4 linked regions of the Homo sapiens genome follow. The protein of the gene in region 2 interacts with the protein of the main gene of each other region in a biochemical or structural test. Each region holds a gene or a part of one and is shown on either strand. Other genes may lie near its edges.

What was found. Proteins that work in one complex are often made in the same cells at the same time.
Region 1: the proteins of DDX3X (region 2) and ANXA1 interact in a test that uses a peptide from one of them, tested with the Homo sapiens proteins (one large-scale study listed by BioGRID).
Region 3: the proteins of DDX3X (region 2) and EIF4G1 form a complex in vitro, tested with the Homo sapiens proteins (one study listed by IntAct).
Region 4: the proteins of DDX3X (region 2) and APBB1 form a complex in vitro, tested with the Homo sapiens proteins (one study listed by BioGRID).

The regions. Positions count from the first base shown.
Region 1 is NC_000009.12:73,158,365-73,161,864, forward strand, and holds part of ANXA1 (annexin A1), read left to right. Parts: intron 1-157; coding exon of another isoform or gene 158-171; coding exon 172-237; intron 238-330; coding exon 331-439; intron 440-964; coding exon 965-1,059; intron 1,060-1,898; coding exon 1,899-2,012; intron 2,013-2,438; coding exon 2,439-2,529; intron 2,530-3,500. UniProt on the Homo sapiens protein: Plays important roles in the innate immune response as effector of glucocorticoid-mediated responses and regulator of the inflammatory process. Has anti-inflammatory activity.
Region 2 is NC_000023.11:41,340,302-41,344,161, reverse strand, and holds part of DDX3X (ATP-dependent RNA helicase DDX3X), read right to left. Parts: intron 2,679-3,860; coding exon 2,546-2,678; intron 1,668-2,545; coding exon 1,509-1,667; intron 1,426-1,508; coding exon 1,326-1,425; intron 947-1,325; coding exon 811-946; intron 426-810; coding exon 340-425; intron 133-339; coding exon 34-132; intron 1-33. UniProt on the Homo sapiens protein: Multifunctional ATP-dependent RNA helicase. The ATPase activity can be stimulated by various ribo-and deoxynucleic acids indicative for a relaxed substrate specificity.
Region 3 is NC_000003.12:184,328,106-184,331,605, reverse strand, and holds part of EIF4G1 (eukaryotic translation initiation factor 4 gamma 1), read right to left. Parts: intron 2,976-3,500; coding exon 2,850-2,975; intron 2,698-2,849; coding exon 2,616-2,697; intron 341-2,615; coding exon 242-340; intron 135-241; coding exon 1-134.
Region 4 is NC_000011.10:6,409,095-6,412,594, forward strand, and holds part of APBB1 (amyloid beta precursor protein binding family B member 1), read right to left. Parts: intron 2,268-3,500; 5' UTR 2,254-2,267; coding exon 1,533-2,253; intron 1-1,532. UniProt on the Homo sapiens protein: Transcription coregulator that can have both coactivator and corepressor functions. Adapter protein that forms a transcriptionally active complex with the gamma-secretase-derived amyloid precursor protein (APP) intracellular domain.

The sequences.
Region 1 (3,500 bases), on a different chromosome or scaffold from region 2:
GTCTTACATTTTGTTATGCTCCTAAGTGTAATTGATCCTGGAAAGTAAGCGCAAGGCTACTCTCTAATGCTAACTCTTATGTATGTAAGAGGTGAGGAAGGAGAGGTTGTGTGTGGTGCATTTGTTTTGTAAAAGCATCTAACTGTTTTCTTTCCAGACACTTTTTCAAAAATGGCAATGGTATCAGAATTCCTCAAGCAGGCCTGGTTTATTGAAAATGAAGAGCAGGAATATGTTGTAAGTAGAGTGATAATAAAATTATGATTACAATATTGAAATAAAAACGAATATAAGTAAATGGCCATTAATTTATTTCTCTCTCATTCTTAGCAAACTGTGAAGTCATCCAAAGGTGGTCCCGGATCAGCGGTGAGCCCCTATCCTACCTTCAATCCATCCTCGGATGTCGCTGCCTTGCATAAGGCCATAATGGTTAAAGGTAACGTGTTTCCTCAAAACAGTTCCCTCCTGGACATTTCAGAATGGCTATTTGAATGACTGTCAAAAAACAGACATGTGCAATGGAAAGAATCTGTTTCATTTTGAAGATAAAAACATTTCTTTGCCAAACGAAGATGTAATTATTTACTTAACACTGAGGAAATTGTGTTCACATCAGTGGAATCTCTATTGTTACAGCAGATATTACTGGCTCATTTCTAGCAGAAATTCCATGCTGAAATTAAAAGCTCTGTTCACATATAGAGTTGCAACTAGTATCAAACACTGCAACACTGAGGGCCAGGAAAAGTTAATTGTCTCTTCCTTTCTCACTCGAATGAAATGTCATTCTCCCAAGTGCTTCCTTGATATGTAGTATAGCATCGATTTTTTAGGCTGATATATAATTTATATTTCTTAATTTGTTAAGAAGTTCTTTTGGAGCATCTCAGTAATGAATTATTTTATGTCAATTGATGATGAAGAAAATTGGTGTTAAAGGCTGTTGGCCCTTTATTTCCAGGTGTGGATGAAGCAACCATCATTGACATTCTAACTAAGCGAAACAATGCACAGCGTCAACAGATCAAAGCAGCATATCTCCAGGAAACAGGAAAGGTAAGTTAGAGTGGTAAATTTAGATATTTAATTTCAGCATAGTTATACTTAACCATGGATTCGGAAGCACAGTTACCTAGTTCTTTAAGGTTCTAACCACTGTTTTCTCATTACATCTATGATTGGGATTGCAGTGTTTATCCACTTTGTTGCAATTTAATCAATTTTATCAAATTTCCTATTTTTATACATTAGTCATCTTGGTGTATATTGTTTGCAGATGTGGTGCTCTGGGGACAAATTTTTAATTTGAACGTAAACATCGAGATTGCTGCTGTCAATAAAGAATATGGTCTGATTGAAATGTACTAATATTTAAACTGAACTGTTTAATGCCTAAATTTTATATATAATTCTACTTTAAAAATAAGCCTTATGTCTTTTATACCAAATATGAGTAGTTTTCTAAAGCAATGAAATTAGAAAACTATATAATTTCAGTATCTGATTATACTGCTTGTTATTTGAGAAGTACAAACCTCAAAGATTGGAAACATGAATATATTATTTTAAAAGTAATTTTACTTCTGTTTTCTGTTAGCACACAGTCCTCTGTGTTTTGATCTTTGTGATTTCTCCCCTGTGTATAAGATTACTAACCCTATGCTTTAAGAAGTTATTGATGAATTCAGTAAATTTTATTTTAATCCCTCTAGATCTGGAAGGGTAAGATAATGTTTCAAAATATTTGGTACACTTTGTATGTGAAGGGAAGAAGCTCTAAAAGATGGTTGGGTTTAGGGATGAGTTGTACGATGACCTAAAGTCAGGTAATATCACATTTTTTAACCTAGCATGTTACTTATTGGAAGTCCTGATTCTAATCTTTTTTTTTGTAGCCCCTGGATGAAACACTGAAGAAAGCCCTTACAGGTCACCTTGAGGAGGTTGTTTTAGCTCTGCTAAAAACTCCAGCGCAATTTGATGCTGATGAACTTCGTGCTGCCATGAAGGTAAATCGCCCAATTTGAGCAAACTCCTTTCCTCAAGAGGATGTATTGGGCAAGTCACTTATGCTTATGTTATTTTCAAAATCTAGTATAGTACCTGTCAATCAGTGGGAGTTTGAAGAATAAATAAATTAATACCTCAATGAAGGAATTAATATATAAATGAAAACAGAAATGTTGGCACTAACACCTTCCATGTCATGTCACTATATGAGTCATATATTTGCATTTTTATTTTTACCCAAAATATTGATGATAAACTTGTTTTGTTTTAGGGCAATGTAATAGAGCTTATTGTAATTATTAAATGTTGTGGGTGAAATTTACTAAATGACAGAGTCAAACAAATTTTGGAACACCAAAAACTCATTGATCCTCTTGCATGAAGATTTTTTTCTACATTTATCCTTTTCTTCTCTTCAAATTTAGGGCCTTGGAACTGATGAAGATACTCTAATTGAGATTTTGGCATCAAGAACTAACAAAGAAATCAGAGACATTAACAGGGTCTACAGAGAGGGTAAGTTGTAATGTCCAACAGTCCAAACGCCTTATTTGAAAAGGAAATCTAATATACTTTCTTAAAATTGACTGTCTATGGTAATTATGGCAGCTTTGGAATCTCCACATATCAAAATGTTTCTTTATTGTTTGGCACATGTCTATTAAATGCTGTTACCAGGCAACGCTTGAGTTGCTAGGTTGCTGACAAGGGAGATGGTGTCCCAATCCGCATCAAGCTTGCGTTTTAATAGAAAATGTTCCTCTAGGATAAATGGCCACATACGATTATAATGGAAACCTCAATTCAGAGCATTGAATTTTTAAAAATTTCTGAAAAACACTTTTCTATTATTCTGGAATGTATTTTATAAAAATGTCCCAAGGTCATTTTTTTTGAAAAGAATATATAATAACAAAAAAATCTCCTAACAAAATGTTTTTCATTTGTCCTTGAAAAAGTAAAGAATTAGGTGCTTATAATTCTCTGTTGGAAACCTTAACTTTATCGTTATGAACATAAGAGACTCACTTTATCTCTAGTTAAATTCACAGAATAAAAGACTAGTCTTAGCTTATTTTATCTCTCCAGTGAAGCATCTCATTTAAATGATGTGCTCAACACTGAAAAGAGGGTAATTGCAAGTCTCTTACCATTTTCCTACTCTCATTTCCCTGAGCTGCTGGCTTTTTGGCTTTCCCAATGCAATATATGGCATATAGAAGATCTTTCTGCTTGATTCTCATACCAAGCATGGAGAATACAATAGCTTTTGCATATCATTTTCAGAGGAATTTAATAAAAGAATAAAAATAAGGAAGCTTTTAAACCTCATTTTCTGCAATTCTTATTTAATTACCAATGTTTATGTTAGATCCATGTGTCAGTGGTAATAATGATGATTATTTTTGTTTGATAAAACATAGTTTATAAAAATAAGTGTTTATATATTTTTCATATGGCCAAGATATAGGCCAGTGATAGTTTAT
Region 2 (3,860 bases):
AAAAAGCTAATAATCACTGGAACTCATACTTACTTTTCTGGCTTCCTCGTAGATCTGTACTGCCAACTCTCTCGTTGGTGCTAATACCAAGGAGATTGGGTATTGTTTGCGGCGCCCATACCTTCCATTTTCCTAAGAAATAAGTTAATTTTTAAGTTAACTCTACCTACCCTGTTTGAAAAGTTCATCACAACATAATTCCCTTTTGTAATTTATAGATTACAGATTACACTTGAAAACTGGTTTTCATTCTACTTAAGTCTTAGCATCATTTAGAAAGCCCTCTCAATGGCCACCTACAAAGTTCTACAATTTCCCATTTTATAAAGAAACATCTACCTTCATGGCCCTCAAAGCCTCGCCTGGACCATCTGAATAAATCTGACTCAAGATGGGCAACAGAAATGCTGCAGTTTTTCCAGACCCTGTTCAAAAACAAACAAACAAATCCTGCTCATTACTTTTAAACAGACATTGGTAGATGACAGTGTTTTTTAACTACCCTATTACTAATAATTAGTACTTTTAGTTTATGCTTAAGTTTTCCAAAAAGTGGCTTCTCTGCTCCACCTCTAAGAGGAGTCAGCAAACTGAGACTATTTTGTAAATAAAGCCTGTTATTTTTATAAATAAAGCTCTTACGGAATACAGCCGTAACCAATAATTTATGTATCATCTATGGCTTCTTTCACAGTCCAATAGCAGCGCAGAGCAGCTGCAAAACTGCATGACCCATAAAAAATAAAATATTTTATTGTCTAGTCCTTTACAGAAGAAATATGATGTTTTACTCTTATGAGTTGAGCTTACCTGTTTGGGCACAAGCCATCAAGTCTCTTTTCTCTTTGATAATAGGAATAGCATGCTTTTGCACTGGAGTTGGGCGAGTATAACGAGTAAGCTCAATGTTTCCCATGATAATTTCTCCCATCTCAACATCACTGAACTGTTAAGAAATTCAATGGGGTTAGGAATGCTATCTAGAGCTATTTCTGTTTTATACTAATAATGGAAACAACCAACCAACAGCTGATTGGTAACTCAGTTTATAGTTTAAGTAAAATTATCACATTATACTTTGAGAAAAACCAACCCCCAGGCTTACTGCACATTGGAGAAGACTTTGGGTTGTTCCTATGTTTGACCCATTTTCTATTTTAGGTAATAAATTATTCATAATGGTGACACTGAACTCAACTTCTCCTTTTCCACAAATCTATGAAGCCTCTGGTCTACATGACTTTATGAAGCCCATCTCACATTCTAATGTAACATGAAAACATTTAACCTCTCTGTGTCTTAAAAAGTCAAGCAAAAATACTCACACTTTCAATATGTGGAGGACAGTTGTTGCCTGTTGCCTCAACTGGAATGTCATCGTATTTCTCAAAATTAATCCCAGTGTTGCCTCCAGAAAAGAGTTCCCTCAAATCAAAAAATGGATAAGTTCATTTGTTATACTAGCTAGTAAGGCTTCATCACAAGTAACATACACTTCAAAAACTTACTGTTCCAAGCGTTCACTTGGTGGGAGTGGTTTTGACCAATCATCTTCATCTGATTTGTCACACCAGCGACTGTTTCCACCACGTTCAAATTTGCCAAAGCCACTTCTGTCACCACGGCTGCCAATGCCATCGTAATCACTCCGTCCACGATCATCAAACCTGAACAGCACAAGCAATTAATCAGAATCATATCATTTAACCATTATCAGATTCTTATCCCTACTCTAGAACTGTATCTGGAGACTTAAGTTATGGCTAACCATAAGGATGTCAACAATCCAATTCTGAGTTACTTGACAAATAAGGCTCTCTAACCAGCATCATTTACATAACCTCGTTTTCTAAAATCAGTAATCTTTACATTTCTATAAAGTTGTATAGCCTAAAAGGCCTCACAGATGCCAAAATTAAGAATAAGGATTTTATTTGAAATCGGCACACAGCTCACAACCTTCATTTAAAGTGCTCATCCAAATATATTTAATGGTAGGGAAAACAAGAAAATAGCACACCAAATATCAATCGTCCTAGTTATACTAGGATGTCACTTAAAGGACAATTCACCTGTGTGACAGACTTTGGATAAAAGGTAGAAAATAATCCTTACCTGAACTAAGATGTTTTTAAGAGTTTTAGGCCTGTTTGCGAAAAATCAGGACACAGGACTAACCACAGCTATTAGGCACGTGGGGTCAGTTCACCACACTTGTGTAATCAAAAATACAAGGTGTTTAGAAATTGTTATAGAGTCCACAAAAATCCCAACCAAATTAGGCCATTCACTAGATGAACTTACTCTTTTAAGTAGAACATATAAAACTCGAGAAATAGAATAACTCATTTCATTATGCCAATGAGCATATTCCTATTTTCATCTAATTTCTAAGTAACAGGTTCAATTTAGTAAAAGCCTCTTACGGCTAAGAAAATACAATGACCAAACAGACATAATGCTTAACATCCAAACAGGTGGTCAGGATAACGACTTATTAAACTGTTATTATACATACACGTAAGGTGATTAAGAAATCACTTACCTTCCCCTTGATCCACTTCCACGATCACTGAAGAAGCTAGACTTCCCTCTTGAATCACTACGAGATCCAAAACTGCTATACGCATCCTTATCTTTGCTAGAACTCCACCCTGAACTGTCTTTATCGTAGAAACCTTTGATTAAAAAAGCACAAATACATTTTATTATTAATTAGAAATAGGAACCATGTTAAGGTATTATCAATCTTTCTGAATTTGAAAGCCTCCACTGACTATCCCTACCATGGCACTGTAAGAGAACCAAGATTTAAAGCTGGTTTACACCCGGACAAAGTTTTTCTTTAATTCTCCCCACTAGAAAATACTGTCCACTGGCCAGGCATGGTGGCTCACGCCTGTAATCCCAGCACTTTGGGAGGCCAAGGCGGGCAGGTCACCTGAGGTCAGGAGTTCGAGACTAGCCTGACCAACATGGAGAAACCCCGTCTCTACTACATATACAATATTAGCCAGGCGTGGTGGCCCACGTCTGTAATCCCAGCTACTCAGGAGGCTGAGGCAGGAGAATCACTTGAACCCGGGAGGCTGAGGTTGCAGTGAGCCAAGATTGCGCCACTGCACTCCAGCACGGGAAACAAGAGTGAAACACCCTTGTCTCAAAAAAAAAAAAATTACTTTACACTAAATCAAGCAATCTGACAGTCTAAGAATGTTTCTCAATGAATACTACCTCTAAGTGGTCAACAGCTTTGCCTGTAACGCATTATGACGTTGTGTGACCATAACAATTTAATTTCCATTCATTTTATAGGTGTGAATGAGTTTACTAGGAAAAACAGTTACCATTGTTTCCATGTTTCTTGGAGGTGGTATTCATTTAGAACATTCATAGACTGTCAGATTACTTGGTTTAATACAGTATTTTTCAGTTTCAATAGTATAAAGTACAAGAACACTAATGTCAAATTGTAGTATTATTTTAGTGGTTCATCTACTATAAGCTTGATGACAATCAGGAATACCTGGGAAAAAGAAAAACCCTCATCACTATATATTCTCAGTATAGACAAGGTTCCTGGGTACAGCTATAAATATCCAGGTAAGGGGATGACAAACATGTAAATTAACCCAAAGACAGGTAGAGGGTTTAAAGACAGGTAGAGGGTTTAACTAGCTTCAGCAACACCTTATTAAACAGAAACAGCTTCTCAATTCAGTTACTTTCCTTCTGCCTTCTACCTCCTACCGTTAGGCCAGTCAGGTGACCAACAGCCTTTGCTAGCAAGAAAGAGTTAAGTTAGATTGCCAGATCTCTACCAGCTCTAAAACCTCTATGATACTGCCATATACACGAGG
Region 3 (3,500 bases), on a different chromosome or scaffold from region 2:
TCTATCCAGTCGAACACCCGCTGGTTACTGCTGCCCTCCTTCAGCAGCTTCTCCAGCTGCCTGTTCAGCTCCTCGGAGGGGAGTGCCCTCTGGCCAGGGGCTTCCGACTCCTCTCCCAGGGTATACTCCACCTTCTGCAATGGAAAAGGCCCGCAGTTAAGAGGTAAGGTTGCCAACAGGAGACAAGAAAGAAGACTGGCCAGCCTCAAATGCTAGAATTAACCCAACTCCATCCCCAAACCTGTTCAGCGACGAATGCACCAATGTCCTGGCCTTCAGGTAGAAATTCCTTCCAGCTAAGCCCGGCTTCTCGCCACAGCGTCCCCACCTTTTTAGGACCCTGGAAAACACAAGACCAACCCAGCTTACCAAAGCTCTCTCTCTCCAAGGACCCAACAGCTCTACCACATTAATCCAACAAATATTTACTGAAAGCCTACTAGGTACTTGCTAGGCATTAAGGATGCTATAGAAATACTAATAGGCAAAGCCCTTCCATTCCTACGGTCTGGTGCAGGGCACAGATGTCAGTCAAATAACCACCCAAATAAATAAGAACTCGTCCCAGGAGCGGGCGGTGGCTCACGCCTGTAATCCTAGCACTCTGAAAGGTCGAGGTGGGCGGATCACCTGAGGTCAGGAGTCGGAGACCAGCCTGACCAACATGGTGAAACCCCGTCTCTACAGAAAATACAAAAATTAGCCAGGCGTGGTGGTGGGTGCCTGTAATCCCAGCTACTCGGGAGGCTGAGGCAGGAGAATCGCTTGAACCCAAGGCGAGGGTTGCAATGAGCTGAGATCACGCCACTGCACTCCAGCCTGGGCGACACAGCGAGACTCTGTCTCAAAAAAATAATAATAATAAAATAAAATAAAAGAGAACTTGTCCACCAAAGTGCTATGACACTAGGGTAGGAAAAATGATGTAAGGGCCTCTAGGAAGGGACAACTTCTAACAAGTATGCTTGTTTCCTAAACCCAGAAAATCTTAAGACACAAATATACCCCATCCCTAACACAAATAAAAAATCCTCATAAAACCAGCAGTCTGAGTGCATTTTCTGTAAGGGGCAATAGACTATGAAGACATCACTCTTTTCTTTATAACAGACTAATGGCACTGGCTCTTAGCAAGATTATTGCAGTTCACAGATTTTAAAACATGCCCATTTTTTCACATTTTAACTAAAAGTTGTCTTACAGCCGATATATATCTTTTTTTATTTTGAGACAGAGTCTTGCTCTGTCGCCCAGGCTGGAGTGCAGTGGCACAATCTTGGCTTACTGCAACCTCCCCCTCCTGGGTTCAAGCAATTCTCCTGCCTCAGCCTCCCAAGTAGCTGGGACTACAGGTGCGCACCACCATGTCCAGCTAATTTTTTTGTATTTTTAGTAGATACAGGGTTTCATCATGTTGGCCAGGCTGGTTTCCAACTCCTGACCTCACGTGATCCACCCACCTCTGCCTCCCAAAGTGCTGGGATTACCACGCCCGGCCCAGTCTTTTCTTTCTTAACAGCGCATAAAGAATGTCTTATAATCTATGGCACCTTGGAGTTGATGAAATACACAAATAGTTCAATATGCTTATTTGTTGTTAAAAAACAACTTGTCCTGGTACACGTCTATTTAAAAGAATTAAATGATGTTGACATAACAATTCCTTTAAATCCCAAGTGTGATTCCTCCAGGTTCCAGATGGCTGAACCCTTGAAACTGCACACACTCACCCCAACTTCTCACTTCCACTAAGTACCACATTCAACTTACCTTTCCCCATCTCTTTACCTTTATATTCGCTAGTTACCAATTAACTTTCACAAAGCCGCTTCAGCACCCTGAAAGCCTCCTGTCACAAATATTGTCAAATATTCCTTTGCAACCCCACAGTACTTAAGATACTCCACTCTATTTCAACTGTTTTATGTCACGCTTTACTGTTGTTTTTATCAAGCTGTCATTTCTTTTTTCTTTTTTGGAGACAGAGTCTTGCTCTGTTTCCCAGGCTGGAGTGCAGTGGCACAATCTCGGCTCACTGCTACCTCCGCCTCCCGGGTCAAGTGATTCTCCTGCCTCAGCCTCCTGAGTAGGTGGAATTACAGGCACCTGCCACAACACGGCTAATTTTTGTGTTTTTAGTAGAGATGGGGTTTCACCATATTGGCCAAGCTGGTCTTGAACTCCTGACCTCGTGATCCACCCACGTCGGCCTCTCAAAGTGCTGGGATTACAGGCGTGAGCCACTGCGCCCGGCCCATTTCTTCCTTTTTCTCTACCAACTTGTTTCTTGTGTTTTATTCATTGCTGTGTCCCTAGTGCTTAGTATATGATAAATGATCATCAACAAAACCCTAGTTCAATGAATGAATAAATAAATGCATCAATCACAGGCCTAGGGTCTTAGACTGCCATTCTCCTCCAGTCTTGGCCAGAACTCATGATAGGAACTGGTGTGCGGGAGATGGCCCACCTCAGTATTTCCTCTCCCAGGTACCAACACAATCCTGTCATCACCATCACTCCACTCCACCAATGGACCATGAAGCTTCAGGGCCACAGCAAACAGCCAAAACCACACCGTGGGAGGCATCTCTGGACTCCTGGCCCTCACTCACCATGCTTTTGCACAGGAGGCCCAGGATCTCCAGCAACAGGGAAGCAGCTTTGCCCAACGGTCTCAGAGGCTTTGTAATCTCCCTACAAGAAGAGAAAAACCTAATGCTGACAGCCTCCACAGTTCTCTCACCACTACTCCATCTCCCTCCAAACCAGGGTATCCAACCCAGCCATTTCCCTACCACCTTTCCTCTGGTCTTTACCTCCCCTGAATTCCACCCAGGGGGACTTACCTGAACAGCTCCCCCATGGGCACCCCACCTTCCTGCAGAATGGGTGTTACCAGTTCCGCTAGGTAGAGCCACACGTGGGGGATGTCAATTTCCATGTCCTCAGCCAATTCCAAGATTTCATACAACCTGCCAAGGGAATTCAAAGTCAAGACATTCTAGGCCAGGTCCCCACTCTCCTTCTGGGGCAACGTGGCATGGCTAGGGCATCAACTATGGAACCCCCAGGAACATTTTCTAGACATGGGGACAATTATTTCAAGCTAAGGCCACCTCTGTGTCCTTAGATGGTTTTCACCCCGCTTAACCCCCTAAAGTTATGCTGACCAGGATGGTCAAGGAACCCATACTGTTTTTTGGTTTTTTTTTTGAGACAGTTTTGCTTTTGTCACCCAGGCTGGAGTGCAATGGCACGATCTCGGCTCACTGCAACCTCCACCTCCCGGGTTCAAGCAGTTCTCCTGCCTCAGCCTCCGAGTAGCTGGGATTACTGTGCCACCACGCCTGGCTAATTTTTGTATTATTAGTAGAGACAGGGTTTCACCATGTTGGCCAGGCTGGTCTAGAACTCCCAACCTCACGTGATCCTCTAAGGAATCCAACCCACCTTGGCCTCCCAAAGTGCAGGGATTACAGGCATAAGCCACCACACCC
Region 4 (3,500 bases), on a different chromosome or scaffold from region 2:
GGTCTCTCTCTGCCATCCAGGCTGGAATGCAGTGGCTCAATCATGGCTCACTGTAGTCTCGACTTTCTTGGGTTCGGATGATCCTCTCAGGTCAGTCACCTGAGTAGCTGAGACCACAGTGGCTGATGCCTCCACTCCCGGCTAATTTTTTTGTCTTTTTTATAGAGGAGAGGTTTTGCCATGTTGCTCAGACTGGTCTTGAACTCTTGGGCTCAAGCAATCTACCCATTTTAGCCTTCTAAAATGCTGGGATTACAGGTGTGAGCCACTGCACCCAGCTGTAAACATTTATAGATAAAAGTATTTGCTTCAGAATAACCTACGCTGGGCCTAGGAACGGAAGAGAGCATGCAGGTAGCAAGATTAGTTATGTATTGATAATTGGTAAAACTGGCTCGTGGGTAAATCAGGCTCATTATTCTTTTCTCTCTATTTTTGTGTATGTTTGAAAATGTCCAGAATGAGTTTTTCGAAAGGGGATGGTGTGCAGCCCTAGGCTCATCTGAACTGCATGTTCTCCACAAAGATTGCACAGTTTGGGGTATGGGTATTGTGTCCGCCACCTGGTAAGGATAGGGGTCTTTCCTAATCTTTCTTAGACCTCCATCTACAAAACTCCAGGGTTTTGGTTGTAACTATAGCCCATTATCTCCACTCTTTGTTCCTCAGCTTTTCCTGTATTCGCTACACGACATTAGAAAATGTGGAGACTCAGCTTAATTTAAATGGACATATTTAATGATTAAGCCCTGGAGTCCTAGTATCTATTCTCCTCCCCCTACCCAAAGGGTTTTCTTTTCTAACTTTTAGTCAATATCCTACTCCTGACAAAACTGTATCCTTGCAATGGTGCTGGAGCATGTGGATTATAAGCACACAACATTCCCAGTCTTTCCAAACAGACCTCTGTGGGGAGCTGCTGGCTGCTCCCAACAGGCGTGACCTGTTAAAACGGGGCAGACTGGCGACAGAGTGAGACTCTGTCTCAAAAAAAAAAAAAACGGGGCCGACTGTCCCAAGTGCACCTGAGTGCATTGTGCTCTATGCATTGGCGGCAGCATAACACGGGGCCAAGAGCTCAGGCCTGGACTGAGACCTGGTTTAGATTTCAGCTCTATTGTAATCTCAGCCTGTCTGTGGTCTCGAGAAAGCTACTAAACCTCTCTGGATCTCTTTTTTGTTATCTGTAATATGGGAATCATCATAATATTTACCTCACAGCTTTATTGTAAGGATAAAGCCTGAAAATGCTGAGCAGAGGGCCAGTTACCTAGTCAGTGCCCAGTAAACTAGTCCACTTATCAACCATGGTGGCATGCATAATGAATAGATCCATCCATCCGGGCATGCATGATGGTCAGATCTACCAGAATGTCCAAGCACTCTCTGAATGAAAAAGCCTGGACATGGCCTGCTGTGGCCTCAGGGTATGGGCTCTCAGCTCACATCAGGCTGGCACTGGCCTCTGTATGAGAGTCCTAACCTCTGCCCTCACACCCTCCCACATGCCCATGTCAAGCTCCACAAGGTACCTGTGTCCTCTGGGGAGCCATAGGAGGGGCTGCCCTGGGATAAGGTAGCCCAGCTTGAGTCCTCATCACTGGCTGCACTGTTCCGCATGCCAAACAGGAGGCTGGCACTCTTGCTGTGTTCCCGGGGGCCATCTGTAAGGGCTTGGGGCCTGGGAGGGGCCTCCACACTCTCCAGGGGCTCAGGCAGCCCTGGGGGAGAAGATAAGTCCTCCTCCTCCTCTTCATCATCATCATCCTCCTCCTCCTCCTCGGCCTCCCCGGCCGCCTTCTCCTCTCCCTCATCTGGCCCCTGCTCTTGAGTGCTGATGATCAGGCCAGGTCCTCGTAGGCCTCGGTTGGCTGCGTTGTGAGCTGAGAGCTCCAGCTCAGAGTACAGGTGTATCAGGCCTTTGGGGCCCAAGGGTGCCATCTCAGGCTCCTGGCTGGCCTCCTCCGCCAAGGTCAAGGTCACATTGCGATTCTGGTCACGGTGGGCCGTGGCGGCCCGCCGGAGCTGGTTCTGGCCCTCTTTTAGCCACTTGGCATTGGCAGGGCCTGGCTCAGGCCCACCACCCTCCCCCATGGCGCTGCGCAGGTCCTTGGGTCCCACAGCTGTGGCCTGCAGCTTGGCGTTGAGCAGCTGGTTGTGGGCAGCGTGCAGAGGCAGGGGTAGGCTCAGTGCGGGGCCTCCGTGGCTGTTGGCATTAATGGCCGACTGGCTCAGTGATGATGGAACAGACATGGCCTTGGCAGCTCCTGTGGGGTGCGGAGGGGAGATGCTGTTGAGCCTCTGGTCCAGAACAGCAGCATCACTGCTTCTGCCCCAGGGCTATGCCCTGTGCCTCCTCATCTCCCTGCACTAAGCAGGCTAGCACCCATGGCTCTCTATCCTATGAGAATGACTGGGTTCAACTTCTGTCCCAGCACTATCATCCCCATCACAGTCCAGGCCCAGGTCTGAGGCCCACCCCATCCCTATATCCCCTGCCCTGAGCTTTCTGGGATGGCACAGCTGGCGCCTGCCCTCGGTCCCACCAGCAAGGCCTCCACACAATGGCTCTCTGTGCCTCCCCACCCCCCAGCTCATCCACCCGGGGCTTACTGTGCCAGGAACACCACTAGAGTGGGACCGGCTCGTGTGTTTTGGACACTGATCACTGACTGCCCCTCTCCGGCCGCACTTCCATCCCAAGCCCCATCACTGTAAGCTCCTCCGGCTGTGTTCCTATTCCCATAAATCACTCAGCTCAACCAGCCCCCAAGCCCACCCCATACTAGGGACTGTGAGGACAGGAGCAAATAAGCTGCAGAACCAGCCCTACAGGGCATGGCACTGGAAGGCAGGTCACAGAGGGAGGGCGCTCGGCTGCAATTCATGGCTTCTCTGGCCAGATGAAGCTACATCTTGGTGACAATTTCCATGAAGTAGCTCCCCTTGGGCACTGGTCCCTCTGCCAGCCCTCATAATGCCCTGTCCTGGATCACTATGGGAGCCTTTCCCCTGGGCCCCTCAGCCTTTCAGATCTTTGTTTTTTGGGGGTTGTTTGTCTGTTTGTTTGTTTTTGAGACAGAATCTTGCTCTTGTTGCCCAGGCTGGAGTGCAATGGCACAATCTTGGCTCACTGCAACCTCTGCCTCTCGGGTTCAAGTGATTCTCCTGCCTCAGCCTCCTGAGTAGCTGTGATTACAGGTGCCCACCACCACGCCCAGGTAATTTTTGTATTTTTAGTAGAGACGGGGCTTCACCATGTTGGTCAGGCTGATCTCAAACTCCTGACCTCGTGATCCGCCCACTTCGGCCTCCCAAAGTGCTGGGATTACAGGCATGAGCCACTGCGTCCGGCCCAGCCTTTCAGATCTTTGACCAAATGTCACAGCCTCAGTGAAGCCTTCCCTGAACACCCATTTTAAAACCACAGGCTACCTCCGCCCCTCCTCAGCAATCCCTAAACTCTTCCCCAGCGCCTGTCACCATCTGACAAGCCAATT